2 separate regions of the Homo sapiens genome follow, and region 2 is linked to region 1. Evidence: fine-mapped expression QTL. A gene starts in region 1. The other region holds a variant in brackets. All regions are shown on one strand. Distances are between the middles of the regions.

Region 1 (8,333 bases):
TGATTATTGTTCCCTGCTTTTCAATTCTACCATGTATGCATGAGCCATAACTAATGTGCTGTTTCACTTTGCCTGTTTTTAAAGTTAACACATGTAGAATCATACCATATATATTATTGTGACTTGCTATTCTGGCTCAATATCATGTTTTTGAGAGGGATTTAAGTTGATAACTATAGCTGTAGACTATTTGTTTTCATTGTTGGGTAGATGTCCATTATATGAATACAACACAATTTATCCATTCTTCTTTCAATGGACTTTTAATATCCCCTCAATTTTTTTTCTATTCAAGCTTCTTCTTTTTTTTTTTTTTTTTTGAGACAAAGTCTCACTCACTCTGTTGCCCAGGCTGGAGTGCAATGGCATGAACTCTTGATCTTTAACCAGCAGAATCCTCTCAGATTAGTCTCTTAGGTTATTAAGAAATGTAGTTGTAAAAACGCATGTATTGTTTCCTTTTAACTGTGGCTATGGGCAGCATGTCAACATAAAAGGAAGAGGGTGAACCAAAATTAATGCAATTAGGTAATTTGAGCCAAGGTTGAGGGTTGCAACCCAGGAGTATAGGTTCAAGTTGCTCTGAATAGATACTCTCATTAGCAGCAGTTACAAGTGGATTTCTAAAGGCAAAAAGGGGCTTCAGGAAGTGGGCTGACATAGAGTTGTCTGTCAGGAATTCTCATTGGTTTACAGAAATAACATTGATTAGTAGCTGGCTACACATTGTTAAGCTATAGACTGTGGGTTATATTTGCTGTAGCATTATTAGGTTAATTTATAGCTACTTGTGGCTATAACAAGCAGTTTCAAGAGGTGAATACATAGCTCGAAGCGGGGAGTGGGGCATGATTGCTGTCTCATTTTAATGTCTCTTTGGGCCTAATAATTTGAAATGGCTCACATTCCTCAGATGAAAGTTCTATTCTTTCCTCAGGTGTATATTCAGATGTTTACACAACCACAAAGGACTTGGAGAGGACCTATTGTAATGCACACCAGTAATATAGTACGGTAGTTCACTGGGAGAGTATATTTTCAATTTCTTTCTTTGAGGAATTAACCTTTTACTTTATTTATTGATGAGGTGGATCTTTCAAATCATTGCAATAAAATATTACATTATTCATACTAAATTAGGGGACAGGGCATTCCAAGTAAAACTTTTAAAGTAATACCTTGATGTGAAATTTTTTTTTGGCCATTCAGAAGTTTTACCTTGCCAAGTTTCAATTTACAAGGTTATTTGCATGAAGTCATTAATGTGCTAAAAAGTCAATATCCTTAAAAAGAGTTAAGCAGTGCCCATATTTTAGCAAAAATGTGGTCGATTTTTAAAAATTTATATCTATTTCTTGCCTATTTACTAAATTAAATCAAAATATGTAGTGATCACATTTATTTAACATATTCTATGCCAAGCACTGCTCTGAGTGCTTTCTGTATAGTAACTAATTTAATCCTGCCACAGACTCTATGTCAGAGACGTTTGAACCAGAGCGACTCCATCTTGAGTGAGGGCTAGGAAGATGCGGCTGGGACTTGCTGGGCCGCATTCCCAGAAAGTTAGGTATTCCTAGCCTCTAGATGTTTATGGTTAAGGGAATAGATTGATAATGTTTACTAAACAGACCCAGACTTAGGAGTGTCCAGATATCCCGATATCTTGAGAACAAAGGCATTCCTAATTTTGCTTTAAAGATAATAATATTGATTCTTGCAAAACATAGTAATTATGAAAATTAACCCTTTATCACAAAAAGAGCACATCTCCCCATATCTTTTTTTCATCCTATATATACAGGCATTGAACCTGGGGTGGACGCCTTCGTCCTCTTACTTTCGGGAACACCCTACTCTGTCTATGGAGTAGCTGTTTTTTCACCACTTTACTTTCTTAATAAACTTGCTTTTGTTTTGCACGGTGGACTCGCTCTGAATTCTTTCTTATGCGAGATCCAAGAACCCTCTCTTGGGTCTGGATCAGGACCCCTTTCCCGTAACATCTATGCAGGAGGAATAACATGTGTTCCATCTTATTTTACAGGTGAGGAAACTGAAACACACTGAGGTTAGTGACTTCCCCATGTTCACAGTTAATAAGTGGTTGTTACGGGTTGAATTGTGCTCCCCCAATTTCATACATTGATGTTCTAATCCCCAGTGCCCCAGTATGTGACCTTATTTGGAAATAGGGTTGTTGCAGATGTAACTAAATTAAAATGAGGTCATACTGGAGTGTGAATGAAGATGAAGGCACAGATGGGGTGGGTGGTGCTTCTGCACTCCAAGGGACACCAAAGATTCCCTCAAACCACTAGAAGCTGGGAGAGAGGCATGGAACAGACTCCCTCACAGACTCCCTCCTCAGAAGGCAGCAACCCTGCTGACACCTTCATCTTGGACTTGTAGCCTCTAGAACTGTGAGGCAACACACTTCTGTTATTTAAGCCACTCTGCAGTACTTTGTTACCCTAGTCCTAGCAACTGAATACAGGGGTGGAGCCAGGATCAAAACAGGCAGGGTGCTCCAACACTTGGTGCTTTTCACCTCATTCTCTGCTCCTCCCATAATAGGGCTAATCAAAATAAAAATAGACATCTACCCCAATCTCACCCCAATAAATGGCACAGGAGTTACCAGCTTTCAAATCTAGGCAAACAAGGAAATCATTGAATAGTCTTTTTCCTCATCTGTATGATGGCCCTGGAACCCCTCTTTCCTGACCCCTAAGTTAAAAGAGCTGTTTGAGAGGACTCTCTGGCCAGACCTTTATTCCCAGACCCAAAACTAAATTCACTCATGCCACCTGCTTGATTCTGAGCCTGTGCCCTTATTGTAACTGAAATGCAGGTTCAGTTGCTTCCCGCTTTCAGAGTCCAATTATTAATAAGAAGAGCAAAGTCTGGTATAAAGAAAGTGATTTTTTATTCCAAAGCTAGCTTAGGGGGAGCAAAACAGGCTTCCTGCCTTAAGGGTACCACTTTGCTTCTGGGGCAGAAAGCAGGGGCTTTTAAAGGGGGCAGTTGGTATGAACTGCATGCTGGGGAGGGAGCGAGTGGGTGGGGGTTCGCATGACTCACTTTGGTGCTTTATCTGCTGGGTTGTGCCATCATGGGCAGAAGTCATTTGTAAAGTGGCCTTGTCTCAGGCATACTTTTGGATGTAAATGGACTGTTATCTCTGGAGGCAGTCTCCTGGGGGGTGAGAGTCCTGCTCTGGAGCTTTTAAGTAAACACCCAGTTAGATAAGCTTGCCCTGTAGGGAGTGTCAGGTGAAGGGAAGGTAAAAGATGATAATTGCATTTCTAAAGAGCTAAGTAGGAAGTGGGGAACAGGGAGAAAGGAGGAAACAGAGAAGATGGGAGAAATAAATAATGTAAAAAATAACTCATCCTCTATCTCTTAGAAAAATGGGAGTACTGTTATATTACCAGGGCTCCAAAACACAAATGTTTAATAAGTGGGAGAGTTTTGAAAGCAGCACCATTATTCTGAGGTTGATAATATCCAGGTTTGTGCTGTCTCCTATGGGTTAAAATGAAAAGGATGTATCCTACAGGTGACGGTAGGGACAGAGGCCCTCCCAGTAGTCACGTTAAGCTAGTACTGACAGAAAAAGGAAAAGCCTGTCCAGGTGGCTGGGCAACCCTGCAGCGAGGCATAGATGAGCTTGTAAATCAAAGGAAATGACCAAGGTGAGTCTCAATCCTTTTAGAGGTTTATTTTGCCAAGGTTGAGGACACATCTGAGAAAAAGGAACACAAAATCACAGGAACATCTGTGATCTGTGCTCTTTCCAAAGAGGGCTTGAGGACTTCAATATTTAAAGGGAAAGAGCAGGCAGTAGGGGAAAGTGGAAAGTAAAAAGGGAAGGTAGATAAAAGGGGAGAGTAGTTGCATTCTTTGGGGCCTTTGATCAGCATTCACTGAATGCGCATGTTACATTCGTGAAAGGAGGTCGTAGAGGAATAGTCAGTTATGCATTCGTCTAGTGCTTGGTGAATCTGCATTTTTACAAGATTAAATATAGGGTAGAGGAAGCGGTCAAATTGCATTTTTCTCCAGCGAGAGGAAGGATGACTCCTAGACCTGTCTTTGTCCCATACTTGGGAAGATAAGCTGTTAGTTTACATTGCCAAGATGAAATTCAACTGATCTGTTTTAGAGTAAAGATCTTGCGGGCCAACAAGGAATTTCCTTGGGGAGGTGTGTGGCCTTTGATCTTTGTAGCTATTTAGCAACAAAATGGGAGGCAGTGTTGCCTGACTCAGTTTCCAAGCTTGACTCTTCCCTTTGGCATAGTGAGTTTGGAGTCAAGAGATTTTTATTTTCCCTTCACAAGCTGAACAGGAGCCTTTGGAGAGAACGCTCTGGACCGGTGAGTGAGCCATGAGGTCGGGCCACAGGCTCTGAAGTCGTGAAGCCTTGGGACGGAGCGGGTGGTGCTTCGAGGTCAGTGTCACGGGAGGGAGGTCAGGGTCAGGGTCAGACGTGGAGCCCCGTGGAGTGCGGAGTGGTGACCCCTTCGTTCGGGGGCGGAGGGATGACTGAGCATTTATAACTTTTGTGTATCTCCCCGTGGGTGCAGCCCTTGGCCAGCGAGATGCTTTGACACAGCCCCTTAAGATGTTTTAAGGGCTATCCCATAAAGCCGGGAAGGCACAACGGGTGGAGCTGGCGGCCGCCGGGGGCAGGCACTTTTGAGCTAAGGAGGAAGCGGGGGAGGGAAGGAGGGCGGGAAGGACGCGCCACCTACTTCCTGAATCCCCTGCAAACCCCAGAGGAGCTCGGCCTGCGCTGCGCCACGATGTCCGGGGAGTCAGCCAGGAGCTTGGGGAAGGGTGAGGCCTGCCCGCCGCGAAGAGGGGGTGATCTCGGCGACCCCCGGCGGCATGTTCGAGGCTGCTCCGGGAGCCCAGCCGCCCGGGAGCGCCCCACCGGCGGGGAACGGGTCGGAGCTGCAGTGGGACGCGGGGGCGGTGGGATACGGGGGGTCTCGACACCTCTCTGGGCCGTAATCGCCTTCGCTTCTCCCCGGCAGGAAGCGCGCCCCCGGGGCCGGTCCCGGAGGGCTCGATCCGCATCTACAGCATGAGGTTCTGCCCGTTTGCTGAGAGGACGCGTCTAGTCCTGAAGGCCAAGGGAATCAGGTGGGCACCCAGGCGGGGGACGCTCCCCGAGCCGTCCGGGAGCCTGCTGCAGGCGGCGGGGTGGGGTGGGGTCTCAGCCCCCTTCTACCCCCCTCCCACCAGCGTCCTTTACTGCACATTAAACTATTCTCGGCCCTTTGGAAAATAGCAAGTTATAGGCCATTCCCCTAGGAAAAATAGGCCACAGATTCCAACGGTCTAGGACACCTCATTTAGATTAACCAACCATTTAATGGATTAGAAAAGCTGAGGCTCCAGTGATGTTAGTGATTTGCCCGGTAATAACCGGCAGCAGCTCTTTTAGCTTTGGTAGGTCACGAATTCCTGGTCCAGAGTCCTTTCGCTTTCGCCCTATTGTGATTTCCCGTTCTTATTCCAGCTTAACTGTTAGTTGTTATTCTGAATGTATTGTTCCCTCCTAGAATAGTAATTTACCCCAGTACAGCAGAGTTTAGACCCTGACCCTCCTAGGGTAGTGCTGAGTTTACTGCACATATTCCTGTGGATTGGGCTGTTGGTTGAGTCAAATAGAGGGAAGTGTCTGTCTAGCTCATCCTTCTGCAGAGCCTGTTTTGAAACTAGCATAGTTTTTGACTTACGGGCTATCCACAGGATATGTGCAACAGTCACTTGACTTTTCTCTGACACCAAGTATCCATTGGAACCACTTCCCTTCCCATGACCTTTGGATGTCTGTTGATTAGACATTTATTAGATACCTTTGGTGTGGAAGGTTCTGTGGAAGTTTAAAACAAACCCCCTATTCTTAAGGAATTTTCTGTCTGTGTGCTTAGTGTTTGTGAACTAATTTTAGTCTTCTAAGGGGATAATCTTTAGGGGTAGGCAATTATTTTCCCTAAAAGAAAGGTAAAATGCATTTAAAAAATACATTTGAAGGGGATTTGTCATTACTTCACTAAGAAATGCATCTCATTTGGATGAGATTATGATTCTGAACACATAGAGTACTTACTATTTCATAATGTTTCTCAAAAACACTGTCATATTTGCTGTGATAGAACTCTTTTATTGTACTAAGAGAAATCTAATGTAACCAAAATTGAAAAAAGACATTTTTTGGTACTCATTTATTTGAAAAGTCCAGGAGCATGACACAGCTGGATTCAGAGGCACAAAGTCCTGGGTTATGTGCTTCACCCTGGACCTTTAGTTTGAAAACAACCCTACCTTATTTACTGGGGCAGTTTTCCAAAGGAACATTGAAACTATCTTCCCCTAATAGTGTGGGGTAGAGGGGAGGAAGAGAGTGGTTAACAGCTTCCAGACAGTGCAAACAACAAAGGTCTACTACATTAATAGACCAGTTTTAAGCTTGAGCCCGAGGAGGCTTTTACTGGGAAAGTACTAGATTTTAACCACATGATATGACTTAACAAAGCATGGTTTTCTCTAAAAGATGCATCTTCCAACTTGCTGTGGCAGGTGTGTAGACTTGTTGGCTCACAATGCCAGCTTACCAAAATTCATGTGTGTTCTGACATACTTTTTTTTTTTTAAATAACAAAAGCCCAGGATCTTTTTGTTTTCATAGTAACAAAAGTTTTTGTTTTATAGTTCAAAAATGTTGATAATTCTTTGGCAAGGAGCCAAATAATTTTTTTTTTTTTTGCAATGGCTGGTACTTAAGTGTCCAGTATTGTCAGCACATGAACCTTTTAAATTACATGCACACCTGTGCTCATGTTCAAATTGGATGTTCCTTTGTTTACATGGGGGATTATGTATTTAAATCCTCAAATGAAATGCTGTTCTAGCTACAGCTGTGGATGGGAAAATAGAAAACAAAAGGTATTGGTGTCTATTTTTTTTTTAGTAATCTGTTCTATTGAACATTTATTCAGCCTTGACAATCATATGGACCTAGCTCCTTTCTCTTAGTTCCTCTACAGTCTCAGGCAACATACAAGATAGACCTAAATACAATCTGACTATAGCCTGGACTTCACCTGTTTTCTTCCTTTTTGGTTTACTTTGTATGATTTACTCAGACAACATTTTTTAAAAAATCAGTACATGGAGATTTAATCTGAAAGCTTATTTTGTGGGTGGATTTTTTTTTTTTTTTCGAGACAGGGTCTCGCCCTGTCACCCAGGCTGGAATGCAGTGGTGCAATCATGGCTCACTGCAACCTCTGCCTCCAGGGCTCAAGCAATCTTCTCACCTCAGCATCCGGAGTAGCCGAGACTACAGGTGAGTACCACCACACTTGGCTAATTTTTATATTTTTTGTAGAGATAGGGTTTCATCATGTTGCCCAGGCTGGTCTTGAACTCCTGGGTTTAAGCAATCCGCCCACTGCAGTCTCCCAAGGTTCTGGGATTACAGATGTAAGCTACCAAGCCTGGCCTTGTGGGTGGATTTTAAGGATTCCTTAATATCTTCATAAAAACCAAGAAACTTTTTACTCAAATTAGCAAAATAAATTGAATTTTATGTTGGTTCTCATATAGTGGATAGTGGACACAATTCAATTAGTTGCCTCATATGATTTATAACTAAGATACCTCTTAGCCATAAATGGAGTATCTTATTGACAATTTTGAAGCATTTCCACAGATTTATTCATTCATTTATATGAAATATTTCAAAACAAAAATATTTACTGAGTCCTTATTTGAAACTTTTTATTTTCTTCAGAGCATTTATATCTATATAGCATTTTGCTCATTTACATGTTTGTTTATTACTATGAACAGATACACAAGATCCCACCTTTCGTGAAGCTTACATTCTAGGAAGATAACAAACTTGTAAATAAGTGAGCAAAGTAATTTCAGATACATATTATCAGTTCAATGAAGAAAGTAAAACATGATAATCATGTAATAGAAGCTGCTCAGCAACTTCAGAGCTATGGTCAGGGAGGGCCTGGGGATGTGTGTTTGACCTGGGAAGACCTGGGAAAAGGCAGGCAGAGGAGGCAGAGGACCATCAAGTGCAAAGACTCTAAGGTGGAAACACATTTGGCAAATTCAAGGAATATAAAAACCGCCAACGTGTAAAAGAAAACATAGGGGAAAAGCTTCATGACACTGGCCTTGGCAATGATTTCCTGGACATGACACCAAAGACCAGGCAACAAGACCAAAAATAAACACATGAGACTACAGCAAACAAGCTTCCACACAGCAAAGGAAACGATTAACAGAGCAAAAAGG
Region 2 (8,333 bases), 22 kb after region 1:
GCATGTGCGGGGGCACAGGGTATATGGGAAATGTGTATTTTCTGCTCAATTTTGCTGTGAATCTAAAACTTTTTTTTAAAAAAAGGCTATTAAAATACATATATGCAGTTCAAATTCAGTGTGTCCATAAATACAGCCACACCCATTTGTTTATTTATCATCGATGGCTGTTTTTACACTACAAGTGTAGAACTAAATAGTGGAGACCAGATGGCCTGAAAAGCCTGAAATATTTAATATATGTAAAAACATTTGCCAATCATTCAGTTCATGGCATCTGATAAAGACTAAGATACTGGTTGAGATTGTTGCCGCTGGAGTCAAACTTCCAGGGTTCCTAGTCCTCCCTCTTTCACTTACTAGTTGAGAAGTGCTTAACTATGCTAGTCTCAGTTTACTCATCTTTTAAAGTGAATCAAAATAGAACAGTTATGGGACTTTTTTTTTTTTTTTTTTTTTTTTTTTTTTTTTTTTTTTTTTTTGAGACGGAGTCTCGCTCTGTCGCCCAGGCTGGAGTGCAGTGGCGCAGTCTCGGCTCACAGCAAGCTCCGCCTCCCGGGTTCACGCCGTTCTCCTGCCTCAGCCTCCTGAGTAGCTGGGACTACAGGCGCCTGCCACCGCGCCCGGCTAATTTTTGTGTTTTTAGTAGAGACGGGGTTTCACCACGTTAGCCAGGATGGCCTCAATCTCCTGACCTCGTGATCCGCCCGCCTCGGCCTCCCAAAGTGCTGGGATTACAGGCATGAGCCACCGCACCCGGCCCAGTTATTGGACTATTTTAAGAATTAACTGGGTCAATACACATGAAGCACCAAATATATATTAGTAATAATTTATTTTGATTTTGAGATTTTGCAACCCTCTTATGGCCTTTTTTAGGCTATGGATATATTTTTCTCAACTATCTTGAAATCTGCTTTTTTTATATGAGGGATGCATGTGTATGCCCAGAAGTCATCTTACCTACCAGGAGCTCTAAGATGACATGGTTGTGTTTCTTGCTTCTATTTTACCATCCAATTTGTCCTTCTTGATCAGAATTAGCTCCAAAGTAGTAGAAGTTACTCTGTTACTTTCTCTGTCTTCTTAAATGAAAAGTTGTCAGCGTAGCAAGCCGGGAACCAATATGTCTTCTCCAACACCAGATTTCTTGCTGACATATATGCATTTTATTTTCAGAGAACATTTATTCAAACATTTTTGCCATTCCCTGATTCTTATAAAATGTTAATACTTTCCATATTATTATCTAAGCTTATTTCACATGAAATCATTGAATGACAGCAAAAAATGTAGTTGAGTCACTATTCTGAAGATTTGCAAAGATTCTTATTCACTAGCAAAAAATGTTAACACTATTATTAACCAAGAAGTTCTGGATAGACTGGAATTCCAAAGGCCAAACAGTACCCAGTTATAAGCTACATAATTAGGCTCTGTCATTTTAATAAAAGATATTTAGATTCAAGTATTATTTGTTGAGCAGCCATTACGTGCTATATCTTTTCCTGGACTTAAAATCCTTTCCTCCTAACACTATTACCAGTTTTAAAGGTCAAGACAACGAGTCAAGCTTTGGACTTTTAAAGTTCTTCAACCCTACTAGCTGGTCACTTTGGGCAAATAATTTCATTTTTCTGAAGCTGTTTTCTGTTTTGAAAAGTAGAAATAATATGAGTTGCCTGACTGAGCAATTGTAGGAATCAAGGTAATCTATGGAAATAATTTAGTCAGTATGAGTGAGACACAGAAAATATTTTTCTTTCCTTCATGATCTGTTAATCCTACAAAATGCATTTACAAGCAATTCCCACATCAGCTCAATTCTGGAAAATTTAAGGAATTATTTTTTTACCTGCTGAAATTCAGGATCTCAGCTTATCAGCATCAGAGCCAAAGCCACGTCTATTATCTCACGTAAACAGAAAAGCTGTGCAAGTCGCCCCTATATGGCTGGGCTGTTGGCAATGTATCCTTGGCAACTAGTAAGAGTGTTCTCAAAAATTTATGCTGGGGAACGGGGGAAGCTCACAAATTGTTCTTTGCCTCCAGGTATCTTAATTTTATTCATTGCCAGTTTTTCAGAGCTTGGGTAAAATCTCACAAGTAGGGCCAGGACTGGGATGAGGCAACTGAGGTGTCTAGGGTGCAAAATGTGAGTTGTCTAGACACCAAAGTTGTCTAGGTGTCTAGGAGGCACTCACTCTCTGGGGTATGTGAGATTTCAACACCAATGACTTTTTCTTTCCTAGTTGCTGTATCATGAGAATGTTTGGCCTTATTATTTTTTAAAGCTGTACTTACTTACCAAAGAGTGGCCAGTTTAGTGATGCAAGAGATTCAGAATGGGAAAAAAAAAGTCAGCTTTACCCTAGTCAGTTTTGATTAAACTCCTTTGAAATCCATGTTGGAGTTTAAATGCCCATTCTTGAGGGATTCTTGATGTAGAGGAGGCCCCTCCAAAGCTTTAAGCACATGTCCAGAGCAAGGGGGAGCTTTTCTGGTGTTATTTTGTCTTGTTTTGTTTTTTGCCAGCTCCTACTCTCGGGCTTCCAAATCTGGGGCGATGTCTCCCCAGGTTAAATTACCCTAGCTCCTGCTCCAGATCGCTTCCCCGTGCCCCGCCAGAGCCCAGTAGTTCAAAAATTAAATTTGGGGCAAGGGGTGCGCGCCAGAGCGCAGCTGTTTCTGGAGCCTGCGGCAGCGGTGGCGAGCCACAGGGCGGCGACCGTGAGCTCCGGGAGCTGCGCAAACCACCTGGAGACCATGTCTGGGGATGCGACCAGGACCCTGGGGAAAGGTGAGTGCTCTCCATGGGGTCCGCGAGCTGGGGGCGCCGCGTGACAGAAAATGTTGGCTTCGGCGGAGCTGCCTGGCCTTGGCCTGCAGACCGGCGGGGCAGGAAGGGACTTGGAGGGCTCTCCTGAAGAAAAGCCACATGCAGCACTGCCCTCTCTGGGACTTGGGAGTTGGAGCTCCCACAGCCATCTTGGGATCTGGGCAAGTGAGCGAGCTCCTTCCTCACCGGGCTGACTAGCCTCTCCTTTCCCTGTCCCCCTCCATCGCTGCTCTGCAGGAAGCCAGCCCCCAGGGCCAGTCCCGGAGGGGCTGATCCGCATCTACAGCATGAGGTTCTGCCCCTATTCTCACAGGACCCGCCTCGTCCTCAAGGCCAAAGACATCAGGTGAGAAGCGGGAACCCAGAGCCCCCGAGCAAACCCAGCGCCTCACAGGAGCCCGGGAATGTTTAACATCTGGGGCGCCCTGCTCAGCTTTTACAAGGGGCTCCCTGTCCCTTTTTTCGGAGGCAAAGTCAACAAATAGCAAAGGGCGAGCTTTTTTTTAGCGGGCCCTACTGAAATGCGGAGCCCTTTTCCGAGTCACGCCTATGCATGAAACTTCTAGCCCAGCGCAGAGTAATGTGAATGATGGGGCTGGTGAACTGGTTCCCTCCCAGAATGTTTAAGGGCACAGCCAACACTACTGAGGCCTTACCTGACTGCTCCACAGAGGTAGTTCCCCCACCACACCCCAGGCATCTTAGGTCACTGTTTCCTTTCTTTATTGAACTTACTGCATCCAGCATTTTCTTATTTGTTCATCCATCTCCCCTCCCCAGTCCCCTTCACCCATGTGCGTTCTCGAGGGTAGGAACTCTGTCTCTTTTATTCATGAGCTAGGAGAGAGCCTGTCACATAGTGGATGCTCAAAAAACATCTGTTAAATGAATGAACAAATCTTTCCAAACAATGAAATAGAAGGAATTGCTATCAAGAGGTGTCTGGAAGTTTTCAAGACACCTTGAAAACTTGAGAAATGGGTACAGATGCTTCCAAAAGGAAGTTTGCAAAACCAGCTCCTGCAGGTCTGGATTTGGAGGGCAGAGCAGCTTTGCTGGGATGTGGACTGCATAATGCAGCTGGCCTCCAAGCTAGAGTGTTGAGAAT[A/G]TGTCACTCCAGGCTCCCGACTCTTGTCTCGGAGAGTCCATCACAAGGGGGTGACTTCAGAGTTTCAGACTCATGTCAGAGAGATACAAAGACTAATACAGAGATGTTTTAAATAAAATTATGTAAATCTGCCTTGTTGAGTATATAGGGCCTGTATTTCCACATTCTTCCCTTTTGCTCAAATTAAGCTGACCTTAAGGTTACCTGTTTTTTGAGGAAAATAACAACAACTGGATGTTTTGCCCATTTGGTGATAAATTATCAGCTTAGGAGCTGATGTATTTCCTTAGGTCAGCGTTTCTCAAACTTGGCACTGTTGACAGTTTAGGCCAGATAATTCTTTGTTGGAGAGGTGGGATAGAAGCTGTCCTGTCCATCACTGGATGTTTAGCAGTATCCTTGGTCTCTACCCATTCAATGACAGTAGAGTCCCCCTTCCCTATGCACTACCTTCAGTTGTGACAACAAAACCATGTCTCCAGACATAGTGATATGTCCCTTGGGAAGGAGGCCAAAAATCACTTCTAGTCGAGACCCATTGCTTTAGGTTGAGACCCACTGCTTTAGGTCTTGCTATGTGGCCTATGCTGGTCTCGAAATCTTGGGCTCAAGCAATCCTCCCACCCTGGCCTCTCAAAGTGCTGAGATTACAGGTGTGAGCCACCTCATCCAGCCTCTGCTGTAGGTTTAAGACAATCTCCTAGACTAAGCAATGAACGTTCCCATTTGTTTCCTTTCATGTTTTTAAACATACGTTCATGCTTCTGGTAACTATATAGTTATCTAAATAATAATTGTATTATGTGAACATTAAATAATAATAGTATTATTTGAACATCTAATAATTAGAAGAAGAATTAAAAAAGTTATTGCATGCTTATGTGCCAGGCACTGTCCTAAACACTTTATACATATCCCCACCACAGTACCAAGAGATGGGTGTAATTATTAGCCCCATTTTATAATTAAGGACACTGAGCACAGAGAGGTTAGGAATTCGGTTAAGGTCCCAAGCTAGACCGTTTATTCTGATGCCAAAACTCATACTCTTAATTGTTAACATTTACCATATTCTGTTGTGACCTGTTAATACCAGATTTGTATTTTCAAGCTGTAGAATGTACTAAACTCTCTAATGCCATGGTTAAGTGTGTGAGCTCTGAGTCTGTCTGCCTGGCTGTGATCTTGGCTCTACTACTTTTTTTTTTTTTTAGATGGAGTTTCTTGCCCAGGCTGGAGTACAGTGGTGTAATCTCAGCTCACTGCAACCTCCACCTCCCGGGTTCAAGCAATTCTCCTGCCTCAGTCTCCCAAGTAGCTGGGGTTACAGGCGCCCGCCACCATGCCTGGCTACTTTTTTGTATTTTTTAGTAGAGATGGGGTTTTGCCATGTTGGCCAGGCAGGTCTTGAATTCCTGACCTCAGATGATCTGCCCGCCCCAGCCTCCCAAAGTGCTGGGATTACAGGTGTGAGGCACCGCGCCCGGCCAGCTCTACTACTTCTTAGTGGGTGGTATTGGGTGTGAGATTCAACCCCCTTGAGTCTTCTTTCCTATGAGGTGAGCCTACTTCAGGGGGAATTATGAGGAACAACTGAGATAAGGCATGGAAAACATCCGACACATCTTACTGCAGGAAGGAAGATGATGATGTTATGTATTTTATACAAAACTTAAACCTTAAAACACTAATTGCAAATTTTAACTTTTAAACTGATTGCTTCTGCTTTCAAGAAGAGTGCCTGCCTGCAGATGCCTCTCATTTTTGTTCTGTCTTGTTTTCCTTTTGCTTTTTAAGACATGAAGTGGTCAACATTAACCTGAGAAACAAGCCTGAATGGTACTATACAAAGCACCCTTTTGGCCACATTCCTGTCCTGGAGACCAGCCAATGTCAACTGATCTATGAATCTGTTATTGCTTGTGAGTACCTGGATGATGCTTATCCAGGAAGGAAGCTGTTTCCATATGACCCTTATGAACGAGCTCGCCAAAAGATGTTATTGGAGCTATTTTGTAAGGTATATTCAATTTAAAAAGTCACTCACACTGTATTTTACTTTGCATGTCTTTCCCAAACCTCAACCCATTTTAAAGCCAAATCATTGGTGAAACTGTTTTGTTTTGATACCATGTGATCCTCAGGAGATTAGCTAGCATGGAATTAGGGTAGAGCATGGCCACTGATATTAAAGGCTTAACTGCTAGGCGCTTCTCCATTTCAACTGGCAGGCTCAGGAGGTATGGTTATGACATGGCAATGACCGTGTAACTTGAAGCAGGAATACTGAAAGAACTGAAAACTGGTGATCCTTAAAGGGAGTATTTCTCCAGCTTCAGGTAAAAAGTAATGGAGTGCGAAGATTATGCATAGAAGGTGATGCTTTTTTATTATTTTTTTTTTGAGACGGAGTCTCGCTCTGTCACCCAGGCTGGAGTGCAGTGGCACCATCTCGGCTCACTGCAACCTCTGCCACCTGGGTTTAAGCAATTTTCCTGCCTCAGCCTCCTGAGTAGCTGGGATTACAGGCGCATGCCACCACACCCCCTAATTGTTGTATTTTTAGTAGAGATGGGGTTTCACCATATTGGCCAGGCTGGTCTTGAACTCCTGACCTCAAGTGATCTGCCTGCCTCGGCCTCCCAAAGTGCTAGGATTACAGACGTGAGCCACTGTGCCTGGCCAGTGATGCTCTTTAGAAGCATAAGAGTGCCTGCTGTCCAGGAAATGTGAAGAATAGATAAATGGTGGCAGCTTTGATAATGAAAGAAAAAAGAATGGAGAAATTTTAAGATGGTGTCTTTGAAAAGGAATTTTTAAAAACCTCAATGATATTAACAGCTGACATATATCGAACACTTATGATGTGCCAGGCACTGTCCTAGTTACTTTGTAGGAGCTAACTCATTTAATCCAACTGCCCTTTGAAGTGGGTACTGCTATCGTATCCATTTTTCAGATGAGAACACTGAGGCTTAGAGAGGTTGAGTGTCCCACCTAAGAATGTATAGCATGGAAGCAGCTGATCAAGTAAGGAGCACTGGAGAAACCCTCCTAAAGCACCCTGCTTTCCCAGGGTACTATAAGAAGTAGATTCCTACTGAGAACCGGAACCACAGAGAAAACCTAGTGCCTCTCACAGGGAGCTGGGGGGTCTGATGTGGGTGTTGCCCTGTTAGGCTGGAGTTATAAAGCTTCGCTGCCTTTTCAGGCAGAACAGGAACTGGAAGTTTCCACAGACTTCTCCACTGAGAACCTGTGTCCTCTGATTAGGTCCCACATTTGACCAAGGAGTGCCTGGTAGCGTTGAGATGTGGGAGAGAATGCACTAATCTGAAGGCAGCCCTGCGTCAGGAATTCAGCAACCTGGAAGAGGTACAAAAAGGGGTCCCTCTCCTGGTCAGCTACAGTGGAGGAAGCTAGGCAGGGTCGCTAACCTGGTCACTCTAACACCAGCTTTCACAGGCTTATTCTTTCTGCCTTTGATAAGTCAGACTTCTGATCATCTGATTGCATGTTTGCCCTCCTCTAACCTGGTCTAGAATTATTCTGGAAAATCTGATGAGGAGTTGGGGAGGACATGCCATGAATTGCTTCCTTTCCCAGAGTCACCCCATCTCCCTGAGTAGCTCTGCATGGCTTCTGTAGCTTCTGCCAATGAGGTCAAGGTCTGTAAAGGTTAGGGGTTGTGTTTGGCTGCTGAAGTCTAACTACTGTAAATTCATGTTGTAAGGGTTTACTCTCTCACATAACATTCTTTCTCACGTATTATAAGGGTTTATTCTCACACATACGGTGGCTCACACCTGTGATCCCAGCACTTGGGGAGGCTGAAGCAGGAGGATCACTTGAGCCTAGAAGTTTAAGACCAGCCTAGGCAACATAGCAAGACCCCTCCTCTACAAAAATAATTTTAAAAATTAGCCAGGCATAACGATGTATACCTGTAGTCCCAGCTACTTAGGAGGCTGAGGCAGGAGGATTGCTTGAGTCTGGGAGGTCAAAGCTGCAGTGAGCCATGATTGCACCACTGCACTCTAGCCTGGGTGACAGAGTAAGTAGGACTGACAAAAAAAAAAAAAAAAAAAAAAAAAAGCCAGAGGTAGGCAGTTCAGGCCTATCTTGATGGCTTCTTCATGACATTATCAGGAACTGAAGCTTTTTCTCTTTATGGGCTCTGTCATCCTTAGCACAACTTAGTACAAGGGTATCATCCTCAAAATAACAAGATAGCTGCTGTCACTGCAGCCATCACATCCAAGTTCCAGGCTCTGAAAAGGAGAATATAAAGAAAAAAATGGCAAATGGTCATACCCCTTTAAAGGGCTTTAAATCCTACCAGAAATTCTACTCAATGGCTATTTACATTTCGTTGGCCAGAACTTA

The links. PIP is the estimated chance that this variant, and not a neighbour inherited with it, causes the effect.
Region 2: its variant is fine-mapped to the expression of GSTO1 in lung (TOPMed, PIP 0.94).

The regions. Positions count from the first base shown.
Region 1 is chr10:104,250,119-104,258,451 of GRCh38, forward strand. GSTO1 (glutathione S-transferase omega 1) reads left to right here and starts at 4,774. Exons shown (of 6, transcript NM_004832.3): 1 at 4,774-4,844; 2 at 5,045-5,153. The coding sequence starts at 4,811. The region is part of intron 1 of LOC124902497 (a long non-coding RNA gene); the gene reads right to left. RefSeq lists enhancers at 3,942-4,456, 4,791-4,850 and silencers at 4,921-5,180, 5,671-5,720.
Region 2 is chr10:104,272,150-104,280,482 of GRCh38, forward strand. GSTO2 (glutathione S-transferase omega 2) reads left to right here. Exons shown (of 7, transcript NM_183239.2): 2 at 2,536-2,800; 3 at 3,077-3,185; 4 at 5,745-5,967; 5 at 7,221-7,322. The coding sequence starts at 2,767. Among named protein-coding and RNA genes, the nearest start is that of GSTO2, 7.1 kb to the left of the region's middle. The variant A/G (reference allele first, on the strand shown) is at 3,948.